2 separate regions of the Homo sapiens genome follow, and region 1 is linked to region 2. The links come from fine-mapping of genetic effects on gene expression. Tissue or cell type: whole blood. Region 2 holds a variant in brackets; the other region holds the start of a gene. All regions are shown on one strand. Distances are from middle to middle.

The links. PIP is the estimated chance that this variant, and not a neighbour inherited with it, causes the effect.
Region 1: it holds the start of GBE1, and the variant in region 2 is fine-mapped to the expression of GBE1 in whole blood (TOPMed, PIP above 0.99).

Annotation. Positions count from the first base shown.
Region 1 is chr3:81,758,105-81,766,269 of GRCh38, forward strand. It overlaps GBE1 (1,4-alpha-glucan branching enzyme 1), which reads right to left and starts at 3,541. Exons shown (of 16, transcript NM_000158.4): 1 at 3,271-3,541. The coding sequence starts at 3,413. RefSeq lists silencers at 214-508, 3,090-3,169, 3,670-3,769 and enhancers at 2,820-2,989, 3,330-3,619, 3,406-4,014.
Region 2 is chr3:82,156,707-82,164,912 of GRCh38, forward strand. All of the region lies in intron 1 of LINC02008 (long intergenic non-protein coding RNA 2008), which reads left to right. Among named protein-coding and RNA genes, the nearest start is that of LINC02008, 170 kb to the left of the region's middle. The variant T/TA (reference allele first, on the strand shown) is at 4,409.

The DNA of each region.
Region 1 (8,165 bases), 400 kb before region 2:
AAAGAAAGATTAATCACAGTTGCAGCACTTACTTATGCCATATATGCTCAAGCCCATCACTTAGTTTCTTCATCTGCAAAACAGGAAAAATGCCCACCGTCTGTCTACCTCATGGTTTTGTTATGAGGATTACATTAAATACCGGATCTGAAAGTACTTTATAAACATTAAACAGAGGGTATAAAGTAGTATTATTAAATTGTGTTGTTTTGACAATGTTCACAAATGCCAATTCTCTGTTTCACCCACATGGCAAGCTGATGGGCACTGGCCAATGTAACGTATCAGCAGAATGGACTCACTGCTAGGCAAAAGCTGTAAGAAATAGTGCATAGTTCAACATGCTTCTCTTTGCACTGTGACCACCTCTACAGAAGCATGTTTCAAAACAAATCCTTCATAAGCCTAGATTTTTGAGTGACTGCCATGAGGAGGGCCCTCTGGCTGACTCATGCTGACATGTAATATGGGAACAATTAAATGTTGTTTTAAAGCACTAAGATTTTGGAATTATAACAACTAATTGTAGTGTAACAACAAGTAAATAACTAAATAAAAGGTAGAAAAATCAAGTGGAAAATGCTATTTTGGGAGGTCATCAATGAGACAACATGGAGGTGGTCAGTCATGCTAATAATGTACTAATTTTTATTTTATAGCAGAGTAACTCATTAATCCTCTACACTTGATTCAAAATTCTCACAGGTACAGAAGGTGAAAAGAACAACTAATGAAGGTGATATGGTTTGGTTGTGTCCCCACTCAGATCTCATCTTGAATTCCCACGTGTTGTGGGAGGGACCTGATGGGAGGTAACTGAATCATGGGGGCAGGTCTTTCCCACGCTGTTCTCCTGATAGTAAGTAAGTCTCACGAGACCTGATGGTTTTAAAAAGGGGAGTTTCCCTGCACAAGCTCTCTTCTCTTGTCTGCCACCATGTGAGACATGACTTTCACCTTCTGCCATGATTGCGAGGCATCCTCAGCCACTTGGAACTGTAAGTCCAATAAACCTCTTCCTTTTGTAAATTGCCCAGTCTCAGGTATGTCTTTATCAGCAGCATGAAAACGGACTAATACAGAAGGGGAAAAGGCCAAGGTAAAGAAGGGAAGGAACATCCAAAACATCCTAAGGGAACATCCAAAAAATTTCAAATCAAAAGATATCTGTTGGGGAAGGATGAGACAGTCCATCAAAGAGAAATTTCCTTCTTCATCACCTTAATTATATACTGTTGTTTGTACCTCAAATTTTCTTCACTCCTTAGTAAGCATACTTTGCACCTAAGTGTTTGACTGGTTATGTATTTGTGTTAGGCCAAAGACACACAGTCCAAATGGATTATCAGAAATAAATGGAAAATTGGACAAGGAACTAAGACCAGATTGTATGAAGGAAAAATGTTTTATTCTTCAAGTGTTAACAATAGAAGTTACCACTAACAAATGCCAAATTACTATTTGATATGCCTAAATGGAACATGTATGCTAGCAAATGGCCATTACTCAGAACCAAGGACAAAAGTAAAATCCGGGTCAGAGTGAGGCATGAGGGCCCACTGGACGAGACTTTTCACCAAGCACACTGGATTCTCTTCCCTTCTTTATCTTGGCCTTTGTTCCCTTCATTAGTTTTGGCAAACCATGAAAGAAGATTATAAATGCTTCAATCCCAGTGGAGTTGGAAATAAAGTACATGAAAGAAACACTTAATAAAGAATGTTAATCTGTTTGTGTCATTTAAAAAAAAAAGGAAGGGGGTGTAGATAAAACATTTCCACAACTCTTCTTTAATAAATATCTTAAGTGTCCTTTTACAAAGCACACAGGTAAATTAATGTCATGGTTACAAGGACATCAAAAAAAAAATCTAACCACTACCTTTAATCACTATCTTTTGTTCTAAATTTTTTCTGACTATTTCTAAATCAAATCCAACCTTAAACCTATGACGATTATGCACTAAGTTTCTCTGAAAGCATATACTGTAAATTCTGAAAACAATTTCACAAGGCTGCTCCTCATATGGTTTATATAAGAGCATAATCATCTGATTAAGTGAGGGACAGCTCAAGGTGATTATTTTACAGAGGCCTCATTCACTACTATATACAAGCTCAAGAATGAAACTTCACATCCCTTACAATCCCTAGAGCAGTGTTTTATTTATAGGAGTTCCTCAATAAACACTTGCTGATTTGAATGCATTTAATACCTGAAAATGCTAGGACACAAACAATTTGCTGGGCTTTTTTCAAACTCCAAATCAACCCATTTTCATTACTCTCAACGCTCCTTCATGCCAGTTAACTAGTTGGATGTTTTCCATCACTCGAAAAATTGGCCATGTATATTCTGTTGCCAGGATAGTTTCCATTCTGCAGTGTCTCTCCTAAAAGGGGAGAAACTATTAAATCAAAATGGGGTAACCTCACAAGTATAACTATTACAACTTGTATAATAGCTCTTTTACTTCAAACAACAACGACAACAGAAAAAGACCTGTACCTTTTTAGTGGAACTTATGAATAGAATTATTAGCCCAGTAACTAAAGTTGTATGGTACACAATGGTAGAAGACAAGCTAAAACGACATTGGCCTGTAAAAGTTGCTTTCCTGACCTTTCTCCCTCTTCAAGATGGTTAAAGTCACACACGGACAAATGTTGATGTACATTTAACTTCTCAATGTTGATCCAAGGGGAGAAAAAATTGATCAATGTAGGTGTAATCTTCCCCTAAATGAGGAATATTAGCAAGGAAAAAACAAAAGGATATAGTGTCTGCCTGAAGGAATCCTCTTAGATATAAAATCACAACATTTGCTATGAAATAAACTAGAAAGTTTTAAATGCGTAATTACACGTGCCAGGAGTTATGCCCACGTTACTCCACAGGCCCACGCTAGTGGGTGCCAAAGTCAGAAAACCTGCAGCGGCGGTGAGTCACTCCCCAGCAGCACTCTGGGGAATAAGTGTTGGAGCCACAGCACGTACCCTATGGCGCAAGACCGCTGATTAGAACAGAGGGGAAAGGGGATGAGGAAAGAAGTTTCTTCAGCGCCCGCTCCGGGCACCAGCGCTGTCAAACCTGCCACTACGGAAGCCACAGAACCCGGTTACCCGAGTCACCCCGAGCCCCGCCCACTCAGGTTCCTCCCCGCCTGGGGCGGGGTTGGCGCGCGAGGGCCGAGGGGCGGCCCGTGTCCCGAGACGGCTCCTGGGAGGCGGGCTGCCTGTCTAAGTGGGGGTGGTGGGATTCCGGCGGTACCTGCGCTGGAAGTCCACGGCGTAGGGCTTCAAGTACGGGTCGATCTCCAGGAGTCTGGCCAGTTCGGGCACGTCAGCCAGGGCGGCATTGAGCGCCGCCTCGTAGTCCTCGGGCCGAGCCGCGGGAGTCATCGGAGCCGCCATATTCCGCCGCAGTCCAAGTAGCCGAGGCCCGAGAGGTCGAGTGGGGCCTGAGCGGGCGCTGGAGCTCTAGCTGGGACGCGGCGGCTAGGGCGGAGCCGGAGGGCGCCTAGGCGTGTCGAGGCAAGCCGAGGCGAGCCGCGGCGGTCCGGGGCCCTTTATAGCCGGGACGGAAGGCCTCCTGCCCTTTCTCCCCCCGCCAGCGGGGAGGAGCGGATCCCGGGGTGATGCCGGGACGCACGTCCGGAGCGGGTAGGAGGCACCGAGGCCTCTCCGCCCACTCACGCGGCTGGCACCTGGAGGCCGCAGGGACCTGCCCTTTCCTCCCCTTAACGGTTTTTTCCTGCTGGCGGAGGTCATTCTAGGAGGTGGGTCCCAAGCTGACCTCGCTCAGCCTTGGCCTTCCTCACCCTGACATATTCTTGGCTTTTCTTTACCCACTTAAGCACCCACTGACAGCGACCCCTTCAAATTGGACATAAGGGGTTTTTTTGGAAAGGACCGTATTTCTCAAAGTTCTGAGACTTTTGAGGGGCAGTATTTCAAACATATCATGTAAATTCACAGAGAGGGGAACAGTCAAGTGTAGCTAGAGTACTACTGCTGAAAATGTTAATACCTCTTACAACCAGGACTCTCCTAAGTTTGCCAGGTCACGTGAATTTAAAATTAACCAAGACACAGAATCCTGGAATACCGTTGGAATTCTGCTGTTCTGGTACTCTTTTCTGCATTACCAACAGCTAAGAATTTTAGCCATGGGAAGAACTTTTCTCATTCTCCGTAAGGCCAAAAAGGAAAAGGCATTTGCCTGTGTTTATAATTGTTAACAAGCTTTTCAACGATTAAACTACCTTTGATAACACAAATGATATCATTGAATTGGAACTCCACTCTGCCACTTACAGTGATAAGGCAAGAAACCTCTCTTCCTCTTGGCTTGGGAAGCTCCCACTTGGAATTCCCTTCTTTTATTGCCATTAACTGACTAGCTTCTATTTCAATAATTGCTTTTTAGGAATACAGAGTTGGACTCCAAGAGAGATGGACCCACCAAACCCAGGAGGGTCCAAGCTGCTTTACACCTAGAAACTAGAGAGGATTGAGGATATTTTTCTTGTTAAAACCCAGAACTGGAGGATCCTAGGGGTTATGGAGGAGAAACAGTATTAATCAGCCGTGGGCCTTGAATTTTAAAATATTTCAAAGGAAAGTTTTTATAAGGGGTTTCATAGACTTGAAAGATAAGTGGATATGAAGACAGACCTCAGTGTGAAAAAGTGAAGGACTTGAACGACTTTAAGACGTGCCTTGTTTTCCATAAAGATGACAAAAAACTGCTGCAGACATTTGTAAAATATAAAGCACTAAAAAAGGAAGAAAATTAAAAAAAAATAAAAACCCGAAGCAGGACAACTATTAATAACAGACCCACAGATCTACATCTCCAAGCCTAAACTTTTTTCAGAAACCCAGGCTTGTATCACTGCCTGTCTACTGAGATTTCCATTTAGCTGGCTAGGAGACCTAAACAAACTGTCTGCAAAACGTGACCTAGAATCCGTCTTCTCATCCTTCCTGCTGTCACTCTTATGCAGGCCACTGTTTTCCTTCACTTGGACCAGAATGTAGCTCTCTAACTGACTTCCCCTCTTCTACTCTTTCTCACCTCTACTCCATTCTCTGTACCAGTGTTTCTCACACTTTAATGTGCATATGAATCACCTAGGGATCTTAATTGAGTTCCGATGTGGTGCTTCAGATTGCATTTTTAACAAGCTCAGAAGTGATTCTGATGCTGGTGGTTGGGGACACAGTTTGGTGAGACTCTACACTGAGTAAATCAGACGATGTCATTTAGCAACTTAAATAGCATAGTATTTCACTTAGGGTAAAATAGAAACAGCTTATCATTCTCTAACAAGGCTTGTATAATCTGGACCCTGACTACCTTTCCAGCCACTTTTCTCATCATTTTCCAGTTTTACTATGCTCTAGTCACACTGACTTTCCTGGAACTCAGTGAATTTGTTGTATAATAGCCTCTAAGATTATTTGCTTGCTGTTCTCTCTGTTGGAAATTTTCAGGGAGCTGAGCTCTACTTGCTTAATTTTTTCCAAGCCTTCATTCCAGCCTCAGCAAAAATGTCACCTCATACCTGAGAAACTTCTGATTATAGACTCCTCAGTGTCTTCTGTATAACTTCAATCTCTTCTATGCAACAGTTAACAGAATCTAGGTGTTTGTTTTTCTCCTATTTATTGACCTTTCCCTTTAGAACCTAAGCTCCCCACGAGCACGATCCTAGCGTACATATCTGCCTACCTAGGTGGTTCACCATTGAGCACATATTTATTGAAGTCCCATGTGCCGGCCATTTTCCCACGTACTGTGGATAAATGATAAGACAAGTCCCAGTTGTCATACTCTATTGGGGGTAGGAGGGAGAGGAGACACAATTACCAGTGAAATACATAAAATAATACAAAACAATGTCAGATAGTGGTAAGTGCATTGTCGAGAATTAAAACTGAGCAAATATCTGTGTTAGTTCCGGTCGTCAAGAAAGGCCGTTCAGAACTGACATTTAAGCTGAAGTGTGATGACAAGAAGAAATGAGCCATGAGAGGAAGAGCATTCCAGAATGGCAGAGTTCGTGCAATGGAGGAATTGAATTGGTCTTTTAAAAAAAAAAAAAAATCTAGCATACCCGGTGTGTAATGAGGAGTGGCAGGAATTGTGGTGCAAGAGCTAGGCAGCTGTTCGTTCATATAGGCCCTTTAATGTCCATTTAAGGGATGCTATTGGAGAGTTTTCAGCAGAACACTGATATGATATGGTTTAATTATTAAAATATTCTATGTGGCAAATGAATTATAAGGATACAAGAATGGCAATAGGGGTGCCATTCTTGTGGGAGACAAGGGAGACAATTAGGAGGTGATTAACATTGCCTAGGCATGAAATGATGATGGCTTGGTCTGGGGTAGCAGATAAAATGATGAAATAAAGATTTGGGATGCATGATATAATGAATGCCTAAACTATTATGAAGTCATTTAGTGTCTGTATTAGTTACCTAGGGCTGTAGTGATTAAGTACCACACACTAGGTAATTTAAGCAACAAAAATTTGTCACCTTACCCTAGTTCTAGGGGCTAAAAATCAAGGTGTCCACAGGTTTGGTTCTTTCTGGGGGCTCTGAAGGAGAATTATTCCATGCCTCTCTCCTAGCTTCTGGTGATGGCCAGCAATCTTTGGCATTTCTTGGCTTATAGTTGCATCATTTGGATCTCTGCCTCCATTGTGACATGGCATTTTCCTGTGTCTCTGTCTCTTCACATAGTGTTCTTTTTATTAGGTCACCAGCCTTATTGAATGAAGGACACACCCTATTTCAGTATGACCTCATCTTAACTAATTATATCTGCAATTATTATATTTCCAAATAAGGTCATATTCTGAGGTAATGTTAGGTTAAGACTTCAGTGTATCTTTTTGTGGAGAAATACAATTCAACCCATAACATTTTTGACACACCAAAACAGAGAAAATATTTGAGAAATAGAGTTTATAAGATTTGGTGACTGATTGGATATGAAAGTGAAAAGGGAATTAAAGATTGAACTTCTGAGCCTGGGGGAATTCTGTCTAGCAAAAATAAAGAAGGCCTTGAAAGAGGGAGAACTAAGTTCAAGGTGTCAGCTCCTGGATACCCAAGTCAATATGGCAGCTGGAAATGTAATTCTGGTGCCTAATAGATCATGTAGGAATGAAGATAACAATTAGAGAATGATCCATATGCGTTTACTAGCTAACGGTGGCAAATAGGAGATCCTCAATAAATATTTTGAAACCTTTCTTTCTTGGTATTTGAGTCTCATGTCACATGTTTGCTTTTCAATAGTTTGCATTACAAAGCCAAAGAGTTACTGATAATGTGCTACATCACAGTTGAACCTTAAAAACATAGCAAGTGAAAGAAACCACTCACAAAAGACCACATATTATATGATTCCATGTATATGGAATGTTCAGAATATGCAAATCTACAGAGAAAGAAAGCAGATTTTTAGCTTCCTAGGGCTGGAGGGCAGGGGAAACGAAGAGTGAGTGCAAGTGGATATGCGATTTCTTCTTGGTACACATTTTCTAAAATTAGTTGTGGTTATGGTTTCATGGCTCTGTGGATATACTAAAAACTAATTGTACACTTTAAATGGATGAATTGTATGGTATGTGAATTATGTCTCAAAGCTATTTTTAAAAAGATTCTGAAGGATAAAATAATACTAAATATGCTTTTTAAAAGGCAAATGATTTATACCAACTAAAGATAAACTAGACTATATAAATATACCTTTTAAAATTACATATCCCCCTCGTTGAAAATCATTAGCAATGAAAAAGAAAATCAGAGAGCAGAAAGAAAAAAGAAGTAACTTTTTTTTTTTTTGAGACAGGGTCTAGCACTGTCCCCCGGGCTGGAGTGCAATGGCGTGACCTCGGCTCACTGCAACCTCTGCCTCCTGGGTTCACGCGATTCTCCTGTCTCAGCCTCCCGAGTAGCTGGGATTTCAGGTGCACACCACCACACCCTGCTAATCTTTTGTATTTTTAGTAAAGATGGGGTTTCACTATGTTGGCCAGACTAGTCTCAAATTCCTGACCTAGTGATCTGCTGGCCTTGGCCTCCCAGAGTGCTGGGATTACAGGTGTGAGCCACTGTGACCAGCCAAATAAGTAACTTTTAA
Region 2 (8,206 bases):
AAGCCAGAGAGTGACGCAGAAAGAGAGAATAAAAGGAGTAGAAGTTATTAGATCTCATACATAGAAGAAAATAAGTCTATGCAGTAATTCCTTTCCCAAAAATTTACTAGTTAAATATTGGAAACTAGTATTATGCTTGTGAAGGCTCTACCATTTCTCAGTCCTCTTATTATCTCTTGAAAGCTATGTCCAGATTTGGAATGTGTGTATGCTATGTGAAGAGTTGGCACTTGGTTCTCCTTCCTCCTTTTGTCTCTCTCTCTCTCTTCTGCCCTCCCTTTCCTCCTTTATTCTTTGTTTCCTTTTCTACATTAAGCCTATTGAATAAGAAACAAGGACTTTCCTCAATCTTGAAGGTGATTTACTGAGGGCTCCTTTGCACATCAGAAGTGAGCATTTCTTATCACTCATTTATAGCATGTACTTTAAATTTACATTAATAACTTGGAATCTATACTAATTGAAAAAAAGAAAGCAAATATTGGTAACAATTTATTTAAGATAAATATTTAAAAACTGGAAAGTCTTTCTTTTGTGACCAGACTAAGCTAAGTAGTAAAATAAGAAAGGTTCTTACCAATATTTAATATCAAAACCAGTTCTCTGCTTTAAAACATAATTTTAGATAAGCTATATTCTCTTGTATTTTTTGGCTAAACCAGAGATACCTGGTCCATTTTGCTAAGTCATTACACAATCACTACATTATGAAATATGAAGACATTTTTAAAATAGATATTAAAATTAAAAGAAGAAGTTTTGAAGGTAATAAACAGAAAGAAAAGTGGAAAAGATCAACTTTACAAACATACACAGCATGGCAACAATAATACTTGCATATTCCAAGCAGCAGTTGGATACATGTAATTCATATTTTTTGGAAGAAATAAATTTGAAATGTTCAATAATATTTTACCATAATAACCAGACTAAAAGACTGTTGAAACCACCTTTGTAAAAATTATAACAATGAGAGAACTCTAACCCGACTCCATCTTGTTTCTGACCTCAAAAGCTAACTACCTTTACTCATCCTTGGGCACAGACCAATCTAACTGTGGGAAGAATTTAGTTTATAGTTTAACGTTGAAGCAGGGATGATAACAACTCCTCCCAAAACTGACTCCCTCCAGGGACTAAAACCACCTTTGTAAGACTAATGAAAGGCCACAAGGATAGGATTACGAGAGGGGCCTGAGTTCTGCTAAGATGTAGGTATAGTTAAATAGCGACCCCTTGTTCCTTAGCTTGCTTTTCTATAATCTCTTACTTTTCAGGAGTCATGTAGCTGGAGGTCACAAGATTTCTAACTTTCTAATTGCTCCTGTGGAGAACATCGCTATTGTAAAACCTAAGATTGAGCTTTGAGATATATTCCAGAATTTTGCATTCTGGCAACTGATTGACTTAACCCGGACGGGACCCATGACTCATACCAAGGAACTGATTCACCAGTTCTGTGACCCCCCCAACCCAGAAACTGACTCAGTATGCAAAGTCAGTTTGGACACTTCGATGATTTCATCCCCAGTCAATCAGCACACATTTCCCATCCCCCTGCCCTCCAAATTTTCCTTAAAAAACCCTAACCTCTGAGCTCTTGGGGAGGTGGATTTGTGAAAAATCTCCCACCATCCACCTCGGTTGGCCCTACAATTCTTGAACTCTTTCTCTTACTGAAACTCCTGTTGTTCCCAGTGTTTGGATTTTCTGAGCAGTGGGCAAGAAGAACCTGTTGGGCTGTAACTCTAGATGTACCTACCAATTTTACATCTGGGATGCTATCCTAAGGTAATTAGAGATATTCAATATATAGATAATAAATGACCACAATTATTTAATAATTTCTCACCCTTCCTGAAATTGACATATTGCCAGGCATTGACTACATACTTCTTCTAGATCATTTTCTTCAATATTTACAATCTTTGCAATGCCCCTGGTCTCTTCTGGTTTCACAGAGCAAAAAATTGCCCATAAAATTAGAGACACAGAAGCTGATACAGAGGATCACAACTTATCAGTGAGGGAGGTGTTTCCCCACACAAGCTCTCTCTTTGCCTGCTGCCATCCATGTAAAACATGATTTGCTCCTCCTTGCCTTCCACCATGATTGTGAGGCCTCCCCAGCCATGTGGAACTGTGAATCCATTAAACCTCTTCCCTGTATCAATTACCCAATCTCAGGTATGTCTTTACTGGCAGTGTGAAAATGGACTAAAACAATACCCATATGTCTAATGATGCATATTTCTAAACAGTGGAATTATAGGTGATCTTCTTCTTGTTTTGTTATTTTTCTGCATTTGTGAATATTTCAACAATGCATATGTATGGTTTGTGTGCTAACAGTTAAAAATCATGTTAAAATAGCAATAATAAAAACAAAAACAAAGGGGAACAGAGTCTTAGAATTTAGAACATAAGCAATATATGAGCAAGCAATCCCAGAAGAAAAGGTTGATAAATCTGCATTAAAACTTCTATCATTTTATTAGCGATCAAAGACATAACATATTTTACTATTTAGACTATTTACATTTCCTAAAATTTCAGATTTCAATATTAATAATTAATCCTAAGGAAATTTGTCCTTATTCTATACATTTTATCTCCTTATTACCCACCATTTTCATATAATAATAATGATGGTTAATATTTGAGGGGAGTTCTGTTCATGTAGGAGCAGATGGTGTAACATGCCCAGCTTCTACAATATCTCCTTTTCCTCAGAGTTTCTATGGTTCATATGCTCAAAAGTGTATGTCATCCAGGTAGAAAATATAATAGACATGGAAAGATAAAGGTTTTTATTTTTATTTTTTTAAATTTGTCACCTTGGAAGAGAAAATGACTCTTTATTTTGTAACTCAGACAGGAGGCAAACAGCACATGGCATTGCTGACTGAGCTGCAAAATCAAAATTGACAAATCCTGGAGGAGAAGAAACTTACTATTGCAAAGTCAGGCATCACTGTGCATGCTGCCTGGGCTTCCCTGGTGTCCTCCTGCTGCGGTTGAGCAGCCCTAAGGTCCAGGTGACATTAGTCTGGCTTTTCAGACAAGTCAAAAGGAAAAAAAAAATAATTTTATCATGAGGAAATAAAAGGCTTGGCACAGAATACCAGCCGCTTTTGCTGCTCTCATTATGATAAAGGGTCAGAGAGAAAGGTTGTTGATAAAACTCAACATGGGGCTTGAAAAAAGAACTGGATTTCTTTTTACCACCAGTCTTCTTAAAACTAAAGATAACTCAAGAGTTAATAGCAAAGAGTCACTGATGACGAAAGTGCTGTTAAAATGTTATGCTCATACATCACTGGTGGCGGTGACATTCAGTACAACTCTTGGAAAATGTTTTGACAAAAGCTATTGAGAATCATATTTATGCTTTTGCATTTTGATATGTATACATTGTTGTTTACACATATCCAGACACTCATGTTGGTGTTATACACTAGGATAATCGAAGCTAACTAAACATATATTGATTTAGGAATATTTATTCAATGGTTAACAAAATGGCATATCAACTTGGTTGTAAATGGCATATCAACTTGATGGACAATTATGCAACCATCAATAGGGCCAGTTAGGTAGAATATAAAGAAACACAGAAAATGCTTAGTAATGTTGCTTGGCAAAAGCAATATATAGATATCTATGTATACAGTAGTTAAAATTTGGCCTGGTGCAGTGGTGTATACCAGTAATCCCAGCACTTTGGGAGGCCAAGGCAGTACCATCCTGGGCAACATAGGGAGACCCTGTCTCTATAAAAAAAAAGCAAACAGGCAAACAAAGCAAAACAAACGAGCCAGTTGTAGTGGCATGCACCTGTGGTCCCAACTGCTCAGGAGGCTGAAGTGGAAGGATTGCTTGAATGTGGAGGGTCAGGGCTGCAGTGAGCCATAATCACACCACTGCACTCCAGCCTGGATGAAAGAGCAAAACCCTATCTCAATTAAAAAAAAAAAAAAGAATTGTTATGAAAACTATATATATTCAAAGAAAAAGACAAAGAAATAGGCAAGTAAATATAATTTTGCTAAAGAAATGCATTAATTCTAATTTGATTGCAATTCTTCTATCTTTAAACTTTTATCCCAAATGAATTAATTAATGCAAGAACAGGAAACTCAATACCACATGTTCTCGCTTATAAATGGGAACTAAACATCAGGTACTTATGGACATAAAGATGGAAACAATAGACACTGGAGACTACTAGAGGAGCAAGGAAGGGAGGGGCCGAGGGGTGGAAAACTATCTATTTGTTGGGTACTATGCTCAGTACCTGGGTGATGGGTTCATTGCACCCCCAAGCTTCAGCATCATGCAATATACCCTGGTGACAAACCTGCACATGCATCCCCTGAATCTAAAACAAAAGTTGAAAAATAAAAAT[T/TA]AAAAAAAATAATACAACTGTTATGATGCCATACATTGTTTATTAAAAATCTTAAAAATAATAAAAATAATTGAATATTTAATTTTTGTATGCCTGAAAACTAGCATTTAGGTTAATCTTCAGTAAGCATTTAATGAATGACTAATTTTAGAATCTGATTTTGTAAATTATGTGATAATCAACACTAAAGAAATATGCATATAATTGCTCCTGACCTGTATTAAATTTCCTCTTACTGATGTGACATGCACAGATTTAAGGTAAAAGGGGTAACTCAACACTGAAGCAAATAGGTCTCACAATTAAGCTAATGATCTCTAATGTTTCACAGAGTTTCTCAAGTTAACACATGACATAATGGGAAATGGGAACGTTGGTAAGTTATGCTGTGGTACATGGAGGAAGATTGAGTCTCAGGTCAGAACTGAGAGGAGAGGGTTGAGGAGAAACACCATTTGCCATGTATGCCCTGGGTTCCCAGCAAGGGTCCTAGGTGCTATGAAGACTTACAGTTCAGCACACTTGAAACCTGTTAAGGACCTCTGCTCTGAAACAGGGTCAGGAAGTAAGTAGCATAAAACCTTAATGGCAAATTTGGTGGGACAATATGTAAGAGTGTGTGTGTGTGTGTGTATGTGTGTGTGTGACAGAGAAAGAAACAGAGACAGAGAGAGTGCACAAATGCACTGGAATTGCATGAATTGGGGCTCACAGAAATCCATCTTTCTGCTGTGTCCTCCCATTATTGTCTAAATTTGGTTTCCATAGATAATTGTGTAAAGAGTACCTGCTCCTCCACCTGCAAATCTCTGTAGGGTGCACCAATTTGCCCTATGAAGCTGAAAGCAAAGAAATAGGCAACCACTAGTTACTGAGGTAACACATTTACAGTCTTATATTTTTTCCTTTTTCCATTCATTTCTTAATAAAGTTGTCTGCAGTTAGGAAACAGTTGTTGAGATTTAAATCTCCCATAGTCATAGAAGAGTTTATGACCCTTTGCCTATTAGTGAACAGAGATGATTTATTGGGAGAAAAAAAATGCTCTAGGAATCCTCCAAATGTGTAAAATAATAATTAGAAAGAACAACAACTGACCTTACTTAAAATAGCATAAAGAAGAGGAAAAAGCAGTAACACAGTATTCTATAAATTTACAGAAGCATCAAACCAAGATTTTATCCCATCTCTTTGCCACTTACTGCATAAAATTAAGAGAATAATTAATTATGGGTGTCTGAAAATAAGGTATTAATTTCAAATTGTTTACATGTAAACATAATGTTCTCACTTTCTCTCTCTTTGATTTTTTTATTTCATTGCTAAATTAAGAACATCACTTAAAAAGATCTGGTGCATCATAACAGAAGCTGGGAAATTTATTAACCACTCATTTCATCAATTTCCTCCAGCATATAAATTGCTATTCAGGAGTATTCAAGCCTTTTTAACACTAGTGAGTTAGAAAAGTTATTGCTGTGGATCCCCCATTATAGCACGGAATAATAATTTTTGAACTGTGAGGTTCAGAATTTCTGCATAGTTTTAATCTAGTCTTCATTTTTATATATACTTCAGTTATTAAAAAATCAACATTACTCTTAAAAGTATTTACCAAATATTAACAATTTGAAATTACTGACATATTGTTTTATTTGCACCAAACTTTTTCTCTTACCATCCTTACTTTGTTGAATGCGTCCTGTGATTATTAAGTAGCAAAAATGGTTACCAGTTGCAACTAATCATCAGAAGATTTCCTAGGTTCTATGCAATAGAAAAAAACCTCAAAATACATTGGATGTGAAGGTGGTGGTATTGTTTGAATGTGGTCCCTTCAAAATTCAGGTGTTGCCAATGTGATGATTTTAAGAAGCTGGGCCTTTGTAAGGTAATTAGGCCATGAGGGCTTACTGGGATTAAAGCTCTTTCAAAGGAAGCTTCACACAGCCTTTGGCTACCTTGCCCTCTGTCTTATGCCATGTGAGGATGTAGCAAGAAGGCCCTAAGCAGACCAATGCCAATGCCTTAGTCTTGAGCTTCCAGTCTCCAGAGTTGTAACAAATAAATTTCTTTTATTTGTAAATTACTCAGTCTGTGGTATTTTGTTGTAGCAGCACAAACAGACTAGGTGGCAATATTACTGTAACTGTCATCCATAACCTCCAATTCCGAATGTCTGTGTTCATGAAAATAGCCTTTATTATTCTTATTATTAAAATTTATAATAAATATGTACTATAAATTTGAATTTATTGAATAAATTTATAGCAATAAAATACTCTTCTTAAAAATATCTTTAAAATAATATGGTAGTTTACTATAATATTTCATTTATATAGATGATTTCTGCAACTAACGTACTCCACAAGTGATATAGATGTTTCTGGGAACAATTTTGTATTCCATGTCTTCTGACGGTAGTGCAACTGCCTTTCTGAAAGTTTGTGCATGGTAGATAGAATAAAATCTCCAAAATAAACTTTATCAGGTAAATTTTAAGAAGTTATTTGGTGTGACAAGAAAGCACCTGCCTTTCACCTGTGAGGAGTACAGTTGGTTGACACCTTCCAGCCATAGCATCTTTGGGGCCACCTGCAGCATTTGTACCAAGGCTGACCTCTTCTCAGTGTGCCCCAGACAATGACTGAGCCTAGGATGGCCTATGGCGGGACTCAGAGATCCCCTTTGGGTTGGTTAAAATTTTTTCGAATTTGCCCAATCTTGCTTCCTTTCCCTTTTATCTTCACAGGCATTGATCTTCAGCCCCAACTTCAAAACCACTATACCTGTCTGTGTATTTGCTTCCTATAGAACCCAAAGTTTCCAATTTAGATACATGTTTATGCACACATTTTTATTATTTCAAGATATAAAAAGTTATTGTGCAAGTTAACATATGAGCAAAGTTCTTAGTATCTCCTTTAAGTTCCTGTGCTGGAGGCAGCCATTTTAAGACCTTTAAACACTTTAATTTTAGCAGTTCACATTTTGTCCACTAGGATAAGAAATCTGTCAAGAAAATCAATTTATTTTAGTCAACTCTAAGTTAGTTACAGCTACTGTTTGTACTTGGAAATATATACATATTAAAATGTGACTTTTTAATTTTTGACAGATTTTAATAAAATACATCATGATTCAAGAAACATTTTTTCTTTACAAAGAAAATTATGTAAAATTAAGAAGATGAGCAAAATATTATCAATTTTATAATGAGGAATTCACGTAACAAATTTAATAGTAGGATTTTAATTTTCTTGTTTATTGTTTATTCTTTCTTCACTTATTTATTTATTTTACATATTCTGGACTTCAAATAACTTGAAATGTCTCATGGATAGTGCCTATGCTTGATTGTCCTTCAATCCAAAAGCTTAGAAAATACCTTTTCTTATAGAATCTATTTCTGACGGTTTTGATTGAACTATTTAGGTCTCAGACCAGTTGGTCTGATGAGGCATCTTAGCCACATTATAATTATACACCTATAATCATGTGGTTTAAAGAGTAAATTCAGCAGCCTCTGAATTCTGATTGAGTTTGTTCAGGTGAATGAGGCTCCTCCTCTCCACCTCTCCAGGCTTAAACTTGGACATGTTTTACATGTAGGGCAACTGCTTGGCTCTTGCTATTTTGTGGCTCCCAGTTTACAGCAGTCTGCACGAGGTTAATTGGAACAAATTCCTTCTCCCTACTCTTTTCTTTATGTGAGAATATAATCAGAATGACTATTTACATAGTAATTTACTTTCCACAGTATCCAACTTCCTAAATTCAAATCTATATCTGTCATTA